Linked DNA regions of Homo sapiens. The protein of the gene in region 4 purifies or fractionates together with the protein of the main gene of each other region. This does not show direct contact. Each region holds a gene or a part of one and is shown on either strand. Other genes may lie near its edges.

Region 1 (4,132 bases), on a different chromosome or scaffold from region 4:
TTCAAGTTATCTTTTTAAAAAACTAACACTGAAGAAAGTAAAAAGTACATTTCAGTGTGAACATTTTGTCTGAAGGTTATTCTTGCTGTTTCTGTTGGTTGGGGTTCCACAGAGAGAAACCTGACAGTCACAAGAGGTCCTATAAATTCCAAAGGTCTAGACCACGGTAACTATGAGTTTGTTGGACCAAGAAATTATCAGGGCCTCTAGCAGAAATTTAGGTTACTTGGAGAGAAGAAAATGATTGTCTCATTTGTTTATTTTTTGTAAAGCTGGTTTGGTTTTACAAGTAAGTATGAGGTATACAGAGATAATGTTGAATGGTTAAGGTTGTAAAGAAGGTTATGTTAGGACTGGAGCAGTAGGTTTAATGAATAAATCATTGATGGGAGAATTTTCTAAGTTAATTAGTACAAGTGGCAGTGGGAGAGATTTAGTTTTCTATGGATAGGTAGGATGCTAAAATTATAGTTATCCTGCAACAGCATAAAATTTTCTTAAACTACATACAATTTTTAAAGGCTACTTACAAAAAAACTCACTTATTTCCAAATGTTTTCTTTCCTTCAAAATATATAGCTTTTGGATAAAGTATACCTTCATAAAAGATAAATACACGATAAATAAGTTACTTGTATTTATATGAACTTTTACAATTTTAAAAAGTATTATAAGGACTTTATGTACATTGATACTGACAGTACAAATGTTTGACTATATTTTGAAGGAAAAATGCAATTTGGCATTTGTTTTATGTCTTTTCTTGTGATATATTTTGTTCCCCTTATTTAGATAACTCGGGAACTGTTAACCAAATTATGATGATGGCAAACAACCCAGAGGACTGGTTGAGTTTGTTGCTCAAACTAGAGAAAAACAGTGTTCCGCTAAGTGATGCTCTTTTAAATAAATTGATTGGTCGTTACAGTCAAGCAATTGAAGCGCTTCCCCCAGATAAATATGGCCAAAATGAGAGTTTTGCTAGAATTCAAGTGAGATTTGCTGAATTAAAAGCGTAAGTATTAGCATTTTAACTATGTTCAACTATGTTACATAATATGTAACTACACTGCAAAGAGAGAAAATAAAAAACATGGCAGTATTGTGAGAAAATATTAATTTTTTTACCAAATACTTTTGCTTATAGTTAACAAGAGACTAATGTAAACTCTTTTCTATGCACGTTTCCACAACAGTTTACTTATTTTAAACTGCCTAAAAAGATTTTTTTAAAATAACTTATTAGTATTTAATTTTACCCACAGAAAAAAGCAATATCCCATGTTTTTTGGAAAATTGAATGAAGCATTATCAAATTTAAGTAGCTATGTTCTTTTTCTTAAATTTTGACTCAAATCTTTTATTACAGTATTCAAGAGCCAGATGATGCACGTGACTACTTTCAAATGGCCAGAGCAAACTGCAAGAAATTTGCTTTTGTTCATATATCTTTTGCACAATTTGAACTGTCACAAGGTAATCTGAAAATGTCAAATTCAAATTTTAAGTAAAGGATAACTTATTACAACTTACTTCCTAATATTAAATCATATATATGAAGTGGAAATTTGAGGCAAAAGACATTAAAGTTGATCAGATGAGAATATGGGGAGAAAATGCCACCTAAATGTAAATGCAGAGAATATCTGTTATACTAGCTTTTCCATGTATAAAGAGTAATCCAGGGAAATGAGCATGAACATTGTGTATGTGCTACTAGTTAGATTCAGGAAACATCTAAAGGAAAGTAGCTGCTTCACTGAGTATTTGTAGGAAGAAGGATATCAGATATTTAAGCTAGAGCTTTAAATATCTAGAGCTTACATAAACTTTTCTTATGCTATGGTTTCATAGCACCAAAATGTACATTAAAGTGTAGCTATGTAACTTGGTGGTCAAGTAAACTATATATCTGTGTGTGTGTGTGTGTGTGTGTGTGTGTGTGTGTGTGTAGCGTTAATTGGTAGTTCTTTAAAATAAAAAAGTAAACTGCTGTAGAAACTATTTCTTGCTCACTTGGTTCTTCATAGTCTGGATTTTTTTGGGTAGGACCAAGACAATCTCTTCCTAAGACATTTTTAACCTGGCCATTCCTTAGTCTTTTCTCATTTTCCAGGGCCTTTGGATACACCCTCAGTCTGCCCTCTGGCCAGGTGTTTCCATTCTCCCACTGCCTTGTTTCTGCTACAACTGTGATCCAATTTACTGCCAGTGATAAACATATTAACACTATTGGAAGAATCCCCATGATGGTTTCCATAGCAGGGATTGGTCACTGGAGAGTATTCCCCAGGATTGAGCCTGGAGAAAATAATTATATGACTCAGAAATAATTTGAGAACCCTGAATTGTTACCCATTCAGATGATTTCTGAGTCCTAGTAATTGTCTTCTCCAATATGTCCTTTGCTCTATCAGGTTACTTTTTAGAACTATTATCCCTTTCTTCTCTAGAAAAATGGATTCCTCCTTGCTTGTTAGAGAAAATTTGGCAAGGCTTCTTTCTCTCCATTCTGCTTGAAAATTTCTTGAGGTATTGTGGCCTCTCAATAACAACCATAAATTTTACATGTTTAGAACATGTAAATATTGAAACTCTTAAATTGAGTTATCTGTAAAAAAGACGAACTTTATCTATACCACTTTATCTGCAATGTGGTAGTAATGCACAGTGATGCAATGTGGTCAAATGCATTGCACAGTAATGCAGTGTGGTCAAATTATGATTATTTTGAGCACAGTTGATGGCTTGGCTGTCAGGAAATAATGCAGCATCCCTGAAGTCCTATGCAGAGTCTGGTGTGTGAGTATTTTTATAGGGATGGAGGACATTTCAGTTTTTACCAGATTCTTAAAGAAATCTCTGATCTCAATACTAAGCTATCTGATTAATTAAGCTTCTTAAGCCTTTCTCTCTTTTCTTGTGCTAAAATACACAATACATGAAATTCTACCACTACTTAGTAAATGTAGATGTAAGCACTATCAAAGATATTTTTAAAAATTTATAAACTACCAGAAGCTAGAGATCATCTCTTAAGCATTTTTATACGCTAAGTACCAAGTGCATAGCATAGCTCAATGGCTCCCATAAATGTTGATAATATTCTGTAAGATATGTGATGTATACATTTAATATTTATATGTCAAATGCTAGGGGTAAGTTTACCAATTTTTTTGGTAATCTGTCCATACTCAGAAAGGTAATTATGATAGTTCCTCAGTTATTCTGCATTCTTTTTCAGGCTGGTATAGCTGAGTGTGACAGCTAAAGATTAATCTGTATTTATTATGTTTTTCCCCGAAAATCCTTTTGATGGAAGATGCTCTTTAACAAAAGATGTCATCCTTCCCTTAACTAAATGTCATTATGAATGATACTTATTATAGCATGTTGTAAGAGACTGATGCTCTTGGCACTTTTGTAACATCTAGAATGCCCTCCTGTTTCTAACTGTTGTGATTGGCCTTTGCTGTCCCCTGTTGGTAACTGCTTTGTTACACTTCTGTTACTTCTGAAAGTGGACAGTGGTGATAAACTAATGCAAAATTACGTCAGCTACATATTGCAAGGAAACTATTTGGTATGCATTGTTATCAGAAGAGAGTTGGTTATCTGCATAAAAAGTGAGAGATTGCTTACTTGCCTATGAAATAAAATACATGAGCCTTGGAATAAATATTTTTGCTTAAGTCTTTTTGATTTTTTTTTCTAGGTCCTGATGAATACGTATCTGGGTGGTCTGGGTGGTGGGCATTTTACTGCCTAAAAATGACAATTATCTTTTGCTTTGTTAGGTAATGTCAAAAAAAGTAAACAACTTCTTCAAAAAGCTGTAGAACGTGGAGCAGTACCACTAGAAATGCTGGAAATTGCCCTGCGGAATTTAAACCTCCAAAAAAAGCAGCTGCTTTCAGAGGAGGAAAAGAAGAATTTATCAGGTAACTATTAAGGTATACTAATACTTTCTGTGGTAGGTAGTACTTCAAATAAAGATTCGGGATAATAATTTATAGAAAAATATTATTTATGTAGAATGGTTAAAATCTAAGATTAAATTGTAAAGGAGGTAAGACTGAGAAGTAAAAAAGTCTCTACAACCCCATGCAAATTTGTCTTTTTTGCTAACTAA
Region 2 (3,627 bases), on a different chromosome or scaffold from region 4:
TCTGCCTCCCGGGTTCAAGCAATTCTCGTGCCTCAGCCTCCCGAGTAGCTGGGATTACAGGTGCATGCCACCACGCCCGGCTAATTTTGTATTTTTAGTAGAGACAAGGTTTCACCATGTTGGTCAGGCTGGTCTCGAACTTCTGACCTCAGGTGATCTGCCTGCCTTGGCCTCCCAAAGTGCTGGATTACAGGCGTGAGCCACCGCACCCAGCCCCCTGTGAGAGCTCTTTGTTGTTAAAATAATCTTCTTTCTTTTATGCTGAAGATATTTTTCTACTTCTATTGTTTATCTCTTTACTTTCCTTTCTTTTCTTTTCTGAGACAGGATCTTGCTATGTTGCCTAGTCTGGAGTGCAGTGGTGTAATGAAGGCTCACTACATCCTTGACCTCCCAGGCTCAAGTGATCTTCCCACCTCAGCCTCCCACCTGTAGCTGGAACTACAGGTGCATGCCACCACATCCAGCTAATTAAAAAAAATTTTTTTGTAGAGATGGGATCTCACTATGTTGCTCAGGCTGGTCTCAAACTGGCCTCAGTGTCTTGCAGTGCTGGGATTACAGGCATTGTTTGTTGTTTCTTAACTTTGTTTATGGTATCTCTTGCCACAGTAAAATTTTAAAGTTTTATGTAGTCAAATGTCTCTCTTCTCTTTTACAGTTTCTGGGTTTCCAGTCTTGGTTAAGAAGGTCACCCGCACCCTCAGATTGTATATGTAGTCTCCTAGATTCTCTTTCAGGATTTGTATGATTTTAAGGTTTTCATTTTTTTTTTAAAGCCAGTCAAATTTAGCAGTTGGGGGTTGTGTACCAACTTTAGTGACAATAATGTCACTACCCGCTACCATCAGAGCAGCCTAAGGTTCTTATTTTCATGCATTAAATCTTTGTATACAGTGTAAGACAAGCATGCAATTTTATTTCCTCTCGGATGAATGCTATTATAATTATGCCACTACATACTACATACCCGCATCTTTTACCCCCAGAATTGAACTACCAACTTCAACATACATCGTATTCTCATATTTAATAGATTTTAAGACTTCAAAACGACACAAAGAGGATCAGAACCCGTATGTGATATTTTTGTGCGTCCTGTCTGGTGACCGTTGGTTCACCTTATCTCTGTTTCCCTTTCAGGTGCTGCTAGCTGAGGAGGGGATAGCTCCTCTTTCTTCTGCAGGACCAGGGAAAGAGGAGAAACTCCTGTTTGGAGAAGGGTTTTCTCCTTTGCTTCCAGTTCAGACTATCAAGGAGGAAGAAATCCAGCCTGGGGAGGAAATGCCACACTTAGCGAGACCCATCAAAGTGGAGAGCCCTCCCTTGGAAGAGTGGCCCTCCCCGGCCCCATCTTTCAAAGAGGAATCATCTCACTCCTGGGAGGATTCGTCCCAATCTCCCACCCCAAGACCCAAGAAGTCCTACAGTGGGCTTAGGTCCCCAACCCGGTGTGTCTCGGAAATGCTTGTGATTCAACACAGGGAGAGGAGGGAGAGGAGCCGGTCTCGGAGAAAACAGCATCTACTGCCTCCCTGTGTGGATGAGCCGGAGCTGCTCTTCTCAGAGGGGCCCAGTACTTCCCGCTGGGCCGCAGAGCTCCCGTTCCCAGCAGACTCCTCTGACCCTGCCTCCCAGCTCAGCTACTCCCAGGAAGTGGGAGGACCTTTTAAGACACCCATTAAGGAAACGCTGCCCATCTCCTCCACCCCGAGCAAATCTGTCCTCCCCAGAACCCCTGAATCCTGGAGGCTCACGCCCCCAGCCAAAGTAGGGGGACTGGATTTCAGCCCAGTACAAACCTCCCAGGGTGCCTCTGACCCCTTGCCTGACCCCCTGGGGCTGATGGATCTCAGCACCACTCCCTTGCAAAGTGCTCCCCCCCTTGAATCACCGCAAAGGCTCCTCAGTTCAGAACCCTTAGACCTCATCTCCGTCCCCTTTGGCAACTCTTCTCCCTCAGATATAGACGTCCCCAAGCCAGGCTCCCCGGAGCCACAGGTTTCTGGCCTTGCAGCCAATCGTTCTCTGACAGAAGGCCTGGTCCTGGACACAATGAATGACAGCCTCAGCAAGATCCTGCTGGACATCAGCTTTCCTGGCCTGGACGAGGACCCACTGGGCCCTGACAACATCAACTGGTCCCAGTTTATTCCTGAGCTACAGTAGAGCCCTGCCCTTGCCCCTGTGCTCAAGCTGTCCACCATCCCGGGCACTCCAAGGCTCAGTGCACCCCAAGCCTCTGAGTGAGGACAGCAGGCAGGGACTGTTCTGCTCCTCATAGCTCCCTGCTGCCTGATTATGCAAAAGTAGCAGTCACACCCTAGCCACTGCTGGGACCTTGTGTTCCCCAAGAGTATCTGATTCCTCTGCTGTCCCTGCCAGGAGCTGAAGGGTGGGAACAACAAAGGCAATGGTGAAAAGAGATTAGGAACCCCCCAGCCTGTTTCCATTCTCTGCCCAGCAGTCTCTTACCTTCCCTGATCTTTGCAGGGTGGTCCGTGTAAATAGTATAAATTCTCCAAATTATCCTCTAATTATAAATGTAAGCTTATTTCCTTAGATCATTATCCAGAGACTGCCAGAAGGTGGGTAGGATGACCTGGGGTTTCAATTGACTTCTGTTCCTTGCTTTTAGTTTTGATAGAAGGGAAGACCTGCAGTGCACGGTTTCTTCCAGGCTGAGGTACCTGGATCTTGGGTTCTTCACTGCAGGGACCCAGACAAGTGGATCTGCTTGCCAGAGTCCTTTTTGCCCCTCCCTGCCACCTCCCCGTGTTTCCAAGTCAGCTTTCCTGCAAGAAGAAATCCTGGTTAAAAAAGTCTTTTGTATTGGGTCAGGAGTTGAATTTGGGGTGGGAGGATGGATGCAACTGAAGCAGAGTGTGGGTGCCCAGATGTGCGCTATTAGATGTTTCTCTGATAATGTCCCCAATCATACCAGGGAGACTGGCATTGACGAGAACTCAGGTGGAGGCTTGAGAAGGCCGAAAGGGCCCCTGACCTGCCTGGCTTCCTTAGCTTGCCCCTCAGCTTTGCAAAGAGCCACCCTAGGCCCCAGCTGACCGCATGGGTGTGAGCCAGCTTGAGAACACTAACTACTCAATAAAAGCGAAGGTGGACATGCTGGGCTCTGTGGTTTATTGGCGTCTGATTCCTAAGGCACCAGGAGAGGCTGGAAAAGAAAGAGGGTGTTGATGGAGACGATGGTGATAGGGAAGAGGCAAGGCCTGAAGTTCACCCAAAGCAGCAGTTGGAGCACTTGCACAGGCACACACTTGACAACACAAATTGCCAGTTTTCCCAGTGCTAGTCCTGCACAGCTCACCTCTTTTCCCTGGCGTCTCTGACCTTGTTCCTTGGGACCTTTGGACCTGCTGGTTAACTTAGGCCTTTTGAGGGTTCTTAATAAGACAAGCTCACGAGGGGTAGGGCCCCCTGAACATTAGGGCAGGAAGGGCCCAGTTACAGGTGCTTCATTCCCACTGCCATCCCCACCCTGAGGCCTGGGAGCCAGCCTGCCCTGCTTTTCTTCTGCCCGGCAGCAGCTCCTGTTACAGTTTTTTGCAGTCAGAACTTGAAGAAAGTGCTATCCCCTGCCTGTCTAACCTGAAAAGTAGCCAGGGG
Region 3 (4,132 bases), on a different chromosome or scaffold from region 4:
CTTGCTCTCTCTTTAGGTCTTTATTCAAACATTCTTTCCCAATGAGGCCTTCTGTAGTTATATGAACATTTGAGCCTCCACCACTGCGCAGACTGCCTTCCTGGCTCCGTCCTCTGCTTTATTTTTCTTCTCAGCATGAGTCACCATCCTTGTAGTGCAGCTCTCTTGCCCACCACACCCCACCCCTAGACATAAGCTCCATGCAGACTGGGGACTTGTCTGTTTTGCTCTCCCTCCCCAGCCTAGTGCTCAGCACATAGTAGGCACTTGAAGTAGATTTGTTTAGTTTTGTTTTTGTTTTTTATCTTTAGCGATGGGGTATCTCCATGTTGCTCAGGCCCATCTTGAACCCCTGGGCTCAAGTGATCCTCCCACCTTAGCCTCCCAAAGTGCTGGGATTACAGGCGTGAGCCACTGCACCCGGCTTAGTTATGGAATAAATGAAGACTTGTCTTGCAGCTGTCATCTCTGAGTGCATTATGACCCTTTGCCCCCAGATCCTTTACAACCGCACCATGGTGCAGCTGGGCATCTGTGCCTTCCGCCAAGGCCTGACCAAGGACGCACACAACGCCCTGCTGGACATCCAGTCGAGTGGCCGAGCCAAGGAGCTTCTGGGCCAGGGCCTGCTGCTGCGCAGCCTGCAGGAGCGCAACCAGGAGCAGGAGAAGGTGGAGCGGCGCCGTCAGGTCCCCTTCCACCTGCACATCAACCTGGAGCTGCTGGAGTGTGTCTACCTGGTGTCTGCCATGCTCCTGGAGATCCCCTACATGGCCGCCCATGAGAGCGATGCCCGCCGACGCATGATCAGCAAGCAGTTCCACCACCAGCTGCGCGTGGGCGAGCGACAGCCCCTGCTGGGTGAGTGTGGAGCTCCAGGGTTCAGCAGGCTGCCTTGCTCCCTGATTACACATAAGGATTAAGAGAAGTGAAGGGAGTAACTCTCCCACCACTCGACTCCATCTGATTTAATGACACCTCCTCTGCCTGGCACTGTGCTAAGTGTTTTACAAATAATTATTTAATCTGCATTAGTAATAACCCTATGCCGGTAGGTACTAGTAATACCCTTTTTCCCAGTGGAGAAACTGAGGCACAGAGTAGTTAAGTGACTTGCCCGAGTTTAATGCAGCTCATGTGTACCTCTGATCTTTCTTTCCCTTTTCTTCCCTTCATGTACATTATATTCCAGCCAAACCAACTATCATAGAGCCTTATCGTTCAAGAGGCTAACGTTGATTCCTTTGGCCCCTTTTGAAAGACAGATCCTGCAGGGTTGCAGTGAGTGGTGACTCACTGGAAAGGAATTGAGCTGCGCCCTTCCTGTGACATTGGCCCACAGGAGGGCTTGACGAGTGAGCTGAGCCCAGTGTCCACAGCCACATCCCCCTACAGATTTGTCCTCTCCTGGTCATGTATATGTTTGGGCTAAAGGGCAAGTTCCCTTAGGCACATTTTGTTTGGCTTATGTAGTGAGATTTACTTTGTGGGGAAATTTCCCATGAAAATCGGAATTTTCATGTCTTAGAATATTGGCAGTCTGTCGCTCCTGGCCCTGCCTTCCTGCAGAGCTAGCCTTGGCTGGAGCTGAAGTAGCAGCGATGGGAAAGGGCTGTCTGCTTCTCCACAGTCCCTGCCTCTCAATTTCTCCCTACAGTGGTTCCAAAAGCCAGTTTCCATCAGCCCTGCACTGTTGTTCGGCCTATAGAGAAATATTCTTTGAGCCCCTAAACTTGCCTTTTTCTTTCTTTCTTTCTTTTTTTTTTTTTTTTGAGACGGAGCCTCACTGTTGCCCAGACTGGAGTGCAGTGGCGCAGTCTCAGCTCACTGCAACCTCCACCTCCTGGGTTCAAGTGATTCTGCTGCCTCAGCCTCTCGAGTAGCTGAGACTACAGGCCCCCGCCACCATGTCCAGCTAATTTTTTGTATTTTTAGTAGAGATGGGGTTTCTTCATGTTGGCCAGGCTGGTCTCGAATTCCTGACCTCAGGTGGCCCGCCCACCTCGGCTTCCCAAAGTGCTGGGATTACAGGTGTGAGCCACTGCGCCCAGACCAACCTTGCCTTTTGCAAGTGTTAATATGGTTAAAATGGAGGTTCATCCAGGAGGGCTGTGTGCCTCTCCTTACACTCTTAACACTTAGCCCTGCTCCTATGGTTCCATTTGGACCTGATCCCCGTTCGCATTGAGCTTGCCGTTCTTGCTGTGGAGTCTGCGTGTTTGTGTTTCACTGTCTGCCACCCATTTCTAGCCGTAGAACTTTTGCACTTTGTCTACCCTGAATTCCAGTTACTATGGCGTACCATGTCTTACCTTCCTGGCTTGTCTTAGGATTGTATTTGGGGGCCTGAGTTCATAATTAATATATAAACTTGTGATTTTAGAGATAATTTTGACCGGGGCTAAGTTTTTTAAGGAAAAGAAGTGAGCTGCTTGGAAGAATAATAAGCTGGCAACAGTGTAATTGATGCATGGGCATGGCACCATTCATGAAGGTGATGTGAGTGAGGAAGGGTTGGTAAATTCCATTCCAGTTGAGCTGGAAGAGGTGGTTTTGTTTTGTTTTGTTTTGTTTTTTGAGACAGAGTCTCGCTCTGTAGCCCAGGCTGGAGTGCAGTGGCAAGATCTCAGCTCACTGCAAATTCTGCCTCCCGGGTTCAAGCAATTTTCCTGCCTCAGCCTCCCGAGTAGTTGGGATTACAGGCGTGTGCCACTATGCCTGGCTAATTTTTGTATTTTTAGTAGAGACGAGGTTTTGCCATGCTGGCCAGGCTGGTCTCCAACTCCTGACCTCAGATGATCCGTCTGCCTTGGCCTCCCAAAGTGCTGGGATTATTACAGGTGTGAGCCACCACGCCTGGCTGGAAGAGGTGTTTTTAGGTCAAGGAAGCTTACGAGAATCTGATGAAAGCCATGGGCCTTTTTCCTAGGAAGAATGTACATGAGGACATGTGCACAATTTGTCAACATTTTTGAGGGTTTCGGCAGTCCCCTGAAGTGCATCTATGGACTGATTGAGTTCAAACATTTGTGCAGATGGAGTGGCTTGGGCGACTACGTGGCTGTTTGGTGGAGAGGCGGGGAGAGTCTCTAGTATGGTTTGCTCCTCCAGCCTCTGTTCCTCCTTAAAGAGTGCTAATGGAACTTGTCCCAAGTTCCCTAGGCCCTGCCTCATTCCCACCCTTTCAGGTCCCCCTGAGTCCATGCGGGAACATGTGGTCGCTGCCTCCAAGGCCATGAAGATGGGTGACTGGAAGACCTGTCACAGTTTTATCATCAATGAGAAGATGAATGGGAAAGTGTGGGACCTTTTCCCCGAGGCTGACAAAGTCCGCACCATGCTGGTTAGGTGAGCAGACAGAGAGGCCGTGATGGGTCGGGGAAGAAGAGACTGGTTGGTCCCCTTCCCTGAGGCCCTGTTGTGTCTTCTGTCCCCTCTTCCCACAGGAAGATCCAGGAAGAGTCACTGAGGACCTACCTCTTCACCTACAGCAGTGTCTATGACTCCATCAGGTAGGCGGGGCCCTGGGGACACAGAAGGGCCCCAGCCTTGTGGGCAAGTGTCCTGACTGCCCCTGCCCTCTGCCTTCTTTCTTCCCAGCATGGAGACGCTGTCAGACATGTTTGAGCTGGATCTGCCCACTGTGCACTCCATCATCAGCAAAATGATCATTAATGAGGAGCTGATGGTAGGGGCCGGGGTGGGAAGCGGGCAGGTGGAGCCATGGAGGGATTGGAGCGTAGGGGCCGGGGTGGGAAGCGGGCAGGTGGAGCCATGGAGGGATTGGAGCAGAGGGGCCTGATCTGTGTCGTGTCCCCTCCTCTGCCTTGGCGCCTGTCAGGCCTCCCTGGACCAGCCAACACAGACAGTGGTGATGCACCGCACTGAGCCCACTGCCCAGCAGAACCTGGCTCTGCAGCTGGCCGAGAAGCTGGGCAGCCTGGTGGAGAACAACGAACGGGTGTTTGACCACAAGCAGGGCACCTACGGGGGCTACTTCCGAGGTGAGTACTTCGGCTCCTCTCCTTGCCCACTCCTGGTGCCCTCACCGCCTCTCACCTGGCATTCCCTGCCCTTCCTTCCCATCTCTCTCCTACAGACCAGAAGGACGGCTACCGCAAAAACGAGGGCT
Region 4 (5,422 bases):
CTGAGGCAGGAGAATTGCCTGAACCCAGGAGATGGAGTTTGCAGTGAGCCGACATGGTCCCGCTGCACTCCAGCCTGGGCGACAGAGTGAGACTCCATCTCAAAATAAATAAATAAATAAAAAATAAAAGCATGGAAAAGAAAAGGAATATGTAGCCTGTTTCTAGATAGTACCCATCAGGTTTCCTGTTTGTCCTTAAAGTACTCTGAGCAGTAATACACTTTGATATTTTTAAGGCTTAAATGTCAAATTTGCTTCTTTTTCATAGCAGCATTGTCCATTAGATTTTTGAGATAGTGGTAGAAAGTTTTAGGATATGACTAGGTGAAAATTTTGGTTGTATAGTATAAGAAGCCATTCAAGAATGGATTTGGAACAGTGAGAAGAACAAGCAACTTTGGCTACAATGATAAAGATCAATGATCAGGGATAGTGCTGCAAATGGGAAAGAATTAGGAAGAGAATAAAAATAGGACAGATATATAAGATACTGTCTTTATTAAAAAAAAAACTATGATGACAGATTGCGTGTATTTGGAAAGCAATGAGAGTAAGTTGGAAAATTGTTCTTTCTTGGAATGCCTCAGAGTTGATGGTATTACTAGGCATAGGAAAAAGTTCACAGAAAATATGAAGAACTGTTTTCTGCATTTTTTTTTCTTTAAAGTTTTAATGTAGAATGGCCAGTCCGATATACCATATATGCCTAAATTAAAACTCCGTCTCAAATTACTACCTCTCAGAAGAGTATTACTTTATATTTGAGTCCTTACAAAAGTCTCACATATGAGGCAGAATTTCTGTCAGTTCTTTTATTTTTAATGGTAACTATTTGGAAAGACACACTAGCCTAAGTGACTTCAGTGAGAGCTTTTTGAATATTTATAAAAGTCACCTGGTGAAATTGGTTTTTAAAAAAGAAGCAAAGAGATTTTATATAGATTTAGCAATTATTCCTAGGGGTAAGACTTCACAGAAGTGTTGGATGAAGTTGTAAATAAGCCTTTCGAAAATTAATTTAATAAGCAATATAGCAATTGGGTACTATATACATGATACTGTTTTAGAGATCATTAGATGGTGAAGGAGTACTCTTGGCTGGGGATAAAATGTTCAGGGACAGCATCTAACATGGATTCAAAGAGTAACATATTTTGGCTACTCAATGAGAAATTTAGATTTAATGTGCATTGGTAATGAATAACCATTATATGAGCAGAAGAGTTTTTGAGCAGAGGAATTATGTAATAAAAGCACCACTTTGGGAATATTTATCTGGTGCTGTTGGAAAGGGAGGAAGAGACAAGAGTTAGACATACAGACTAGTAGAATAATCCAACTGCATGATCATGTAGACCAGGGCTGCTTAATCTGAGCACTATTGACATTTGGGGCAAGCTAATACTTTGTTGGAAGCTGTGCATTGTAGAATGTTTTGTAGCATCCCTGGCTTCTAACCACTGGATGACCCCTCCATTTGTGACAACCAAAAATACCCTCTAGACATTGCTAAATGTTGGGGCATTAATTGGGAGTAAGAAGGCAAAATTGCCCAGAGTAAGAACCACTGACGTGCATCTAAACTAAATCAGTATCCTAGAAATTCAATTATAATGTATAATATGAAATTTCAACAGTGATTTTTTTCTTTGTATCTTCTTACATTGTCTGAAGCCTTTATTATCCATTTATTTTATGGTTTTTAAAAAAGGGCAGCTGACTGGGCACAGTGGCTCACGCTTGTAATCCCAGCACTTTCAGAGGCTGAGGCAGACAGATCACTTGAGCCAAGGAGTTCAAGACCAACAAATAAAATAAAATAAAGACAGCTTTTTTGACAAAAACAAGAACACAAAATGTATAAAAAATTTAACAAAAACAAGTAAACAAATTTTTTGTAATAAGCTTTCTCTAACAAAAAATTTATAATGATTACAGGCCGGGCGCGGTGCCTCACGCCTGTAATCCCAGCACTTTGGGGGGCTGAGGCAGGCGGATCACGAGGTCAGGAGATCGAGACCATCCTGGCCAACAGGGTGAAACCATTCCTTCTCTACTAAAAATACAAAAAAAATTAGCCGGGCATGGTGGCAGGCACCTGTAGTCCCAGCTACTCAGGAGGCTGAGGCAGGAGAATGGCGTGAACCCAGGAGGTGGAGCTTGCAGTGAGCCGAGATCGCGCCACTGCACTCCAGCCTGGGTGACAGAGTGAGACTCTGTCTCAAAAAAAAAGAGAAAAATTTATAGTGATTACATTTAAGTCTAAGTACAACTTATAGAGGTTTGTTTATATTTTAAATAATATTTTATATTTAAGAATAGCTAGCTGGTAAGGAATTTTGCAACTTTAAGCTGTTGGTTTATTTATCTTTTAAATTAGTGCACCTGGGGACTAACCCATTAATCAGTCAGATTTCTCTTAAACATTTTTTAGGGGAGAGGGAGAGGAGCGTTGTTCTTTTTGGCTTCATAACTTTCTTTTAGCAGCATTTCGTTCATCTGGCTTTAATTTGTAGAACTCTAGCGGTAATGCACTGGGTGTTCTTTTAAGGGAAGGCCCACACCATCAGTTGGGCAGAGGTGCTGATTTTAGCCCTGTTCATCATCAGCTACTAATCTGTAGTGCCTTAGAGAATAATCTGTTCTTCCCCCCAATCCCGGCACAAGAGACACTGTTAGTCAGGAACTTAGAATTGATTGAGCAAAGCGGGATGGAAGCAGTATGTGAGATTCTCGAGATGGCAAGTTTTTTCTGATGCTCTTAAGAACTGGTGATAAGGGAATGATGTTCTGAGCAAAGCTTGATTTTAAGTCAGAAATGGATACAACTCTTGAATATGATACCTTTTTTCCTTCTTTTTTCCCCCCGCCCTTGCCTCTTATTTCTTTAATTTTAAAAGGACAGAAAAAATTTCAAAGCTCTAGGACTTTTTGACTTTAGTATATGTGTGTGAAATTTTCCTAGTGGTCCATAGTAGTAAAATAGCTGGTAAATCATTTGAGTCTTTTGTGGCTTATATATTGCAAAATAAGCAGTTGTAGCAGGTATGCTGGGGAGATGTTATGCAACAGAAACTACATATTTATTGAATTTCTTTATATTAAGAGATTGGCAAGGAAAAGGTTTTCCAAGTGCTTAATGTATGATAGTATACTAGGAGCATTATAAATGGATCATTTCATTTAATCCACAAAACAACTCCAATAAATAAACTCCATTTATCAGATGAAGAGATTGAGGCTGAGAAAAGTTGAGTATTTCCCACAAAGTCCCACTACTGGAAGTGCTGGCACACAAATTTGAGCACGTCTCCAAACATCAAATCTTTGGTATCTTCATTCTACTCACCATTTTCTTTCACTTACAGCAAAATTAAACATGTAGGTTCTTAGGAAATCCCAGATTTCATAAAGGAGTAATTTGGTGGTAATTATTTGCATAATAAAATAATTCTTCTATTTATCACAGAGTTTCTTTCAATAGAGACTCCCAGAGATTCTTTATTATTAGATATACATCTAGGAATACAAAGAAACTTAATGCTAAGACTAACGTACAAGAGTGTCAACAGTGGAAGACTGCTAGAAATTAAAGATCATTTGCTTATTCATTCAACATATAAGCACCTGCTTTAAAAGCACATAATGGATACTGGGAGTATAATAATGAGCAAAAACAGACGTAGCCCCTACCTTGTGGAGTTTGTAATATAGTAAGGAAAACATCACTCAAATACTCTCCTAAATTAATACAGAATTATAGCAGTGGGAAGTATTACAAAGGAAAGGTACTTGGTGCAATTAGAGTGTATAATAATGGTGCCTAATCTCATCTTTTTCCTTGTATCTAGATAGGAATGGTAAAATTAGACATCTTTGAGACTTTATAAAATTTAAGCTATATAAACAAAGGTTAAACAAGAGGCTCTGGAGATCCCAAACTAAGTTCATTACTGTTCTTTCTTGAGGAAATAGAAAGGGCTAAGTCATTTACTACTTTTATTTTTAAAATTATAATTAATATACTCATTGCAGAATTATTAAACATTTACTTGTTTGTTCAACAAAATTTGTTGAGCCTTTACTGTATCTAAGGCATATTAATCACTTAATATAATTTAGATGTACTGGTACAATGTTAGCTAGTGATCAGTAACCAGATTTTACTGGTTTCCGTTGTAACCTTTTTAAATCATTCAACAAATTATAAGCTGGTGTATGTGCTAAAAATAAAAAATAACGCTTGTATCATGATCAGGTGTGAGATATCTCAAAAGTAGTTTATTACTAAAAATGATTTGACATTACCTAGTAAAGATGAACATATGCATATTCAACAACCCAGTAATTTTATTCCTAAATATATATCCTAATTTGGAGAGATTCTTTTTTGTGTTTTTTTGATGGGAGTCTTGCTCCTATTGCACTCCAGCAGCTATTCACAGGTATGATCATAGCCTTGAACTCCTGGACTCAAGCAGTCTTCCCAGCTCAGCCTTCTGAGTCGCTGGGACTAAAGGCTCACACCACCGTGATAGGCTGGAGAGATTCTTAAATATATACCCCAGGAGATGAATCTAAGACTGTTGCAGCATTGTTATAATTGGAAAAACAAAACAAAACAAAAAAACACCCTAGAAATAACCCAAATGTCCACATGCTGTAAAATAGATAAAATACATTTTGGATTTTGATATGTTTATACAATGGAAATATTATTTATTCAGCAATGAAAACAAATGAACTCTAGCTACACACATCAAGAATGAATTTTCAAAACATTGGATTTCAAAAGCAAATCGTAGCAGAATGTATACAATATGATTGTATTTATTTAAAGTTCAAAAACAGGAAAAAGTAAATGTTATACTGCTTAGAGATGATATGTACAAATGTATAAAATTGTGAAGAAAACCAAGAGAAAGGTCAAGAAAATTCAGTGTGGTGGTTTCCTCTTTGGGGCAGGGAGAGGTTTTGGTATCAACAAGGAACACACAGGGAGTTTCAGAGATATTTTATTTCTTAAGCTGGGTGGTGAGTACATGGGCCTAAATGTCTTTGGTTATTGTTACTTAAAATGTCCTTCTATCTCATATATACTTTAGGTTATATGTTTTGTAATTCTAAAAGAGAAAACATATATTCAAAAAATTAAAAGTTATTCCTATGATAACTTTACTCATTTGCATTCCAATATGCTTCCTGGAGTGGATGAGAATTGAGTGGCATTAAAGGTAATAGATAGGGAAGTTTTTGTGGGAGGATGACATACATTTTAATATCTCTGTCATGTATATCACATAAAGTGGTTGAGAACCACTGCTGCTAAAAGTCTGTAGTTTAGTAGGGTTGGCAGTCCTGTTAACAAATAACCATGTTATGAGTGCTCTACTAGAAGAGGTATCTTAAAAAAGAAATGGCT

The links.
Region 1: the proteins of CDC27 (region 4) and TTK purify together in Homo sapiens (affinity purification with western blotting; 3 studies listed by BioGRID). This does not show direct contact.
Region 2: the proteins of CDC27 (region 4) and FOXM1 purify together in Homo sapiens (affinity purification with western blotting; 2 studies listed by BioGRID, with this or other methods). This does not show direct contact.
Region 3: the proteins of CDC27 (region 4) and EIF3C fractionate together in Homo sapiens (co-fractionation; one large-scale study listed by BioGRID). This does not show direct contact.

Annotation. Positions count from the first base shown.
Region 1 is NC_000006.12:80,007,017-80,011,148, forward strand, and holds part of TTK (dual specificity protein kinase TTK), read left to right. Parts: intron 1-792; coding exon 793-1,015; intron 1,016-1,369; coding exon 1,370-1,476; intron 1,477-3,797; coding exon 3,798-3,941; intron 3,942-4,132.
Region 2 is NC_000012.12:2,857,180-2,860,806, reverse strand, and holds the end of FOXM1 (forkhead box protein M1), read left to right. Parts: intron 1-1,015; exon of another isoform or gene 1,016-1,143; coding exon 1,144-2,169; 3' UTR 2,170-3,127; downstream 3,128-3,627. UniProt on the Homo sapiens protein: Transcription factor regulating the expression of cell cycle genes essential for DNA replication and mitosis. Plays a role in the control of cell proliferation. Also plays a role in DNA break repair, participating in the DNA damage checkpoint response.
Region 3 is NC_000016.10:28,731,332-28,735,463, forward strand, and holds part of EIF3C (eukaryotic translation initiation factor 3 subunit C), read left to right. Parts: intron 1-497; coding exon 498-861; intron 862-3,188; coding exon 3,189-3,348; intron 3,349-3,446; coding exon 3,447-3,512; intron 3,513-3,600; coding exon 3,601-3,688; coding exon of another isoform or gene 3,689-3,715; intron 3,716-3,766; coding exon of another isoform or gene 3,767-3,802; exon of another isoform or gene 3,803-3,833; intron 3,834-3,841; coding exon 3,842-4,004; intron 4,005-4,099; coding exon 4,100-4,132. UniProt on the Homo sapiens protein: Component of the eukaryotic translation initiation factor 3 (eIF-3) complex, which is required for several steps in the initiation of protein synthesis.
Region 4 is NC_000017.11:47,181,998-47,187,419, reverse strand, and holds part of CDC27 (cell division cycle protein 27 homolog), read left to right. Parts: intron 1-5,422. UniProt on the Homo sapiens protein: Component of the anaphase promoting complex/cyclosome (APC/C), a cell cycle-regulated E3 ubiquitin ligase that controls progression through mitosis and the G1 phase of the cell cycle.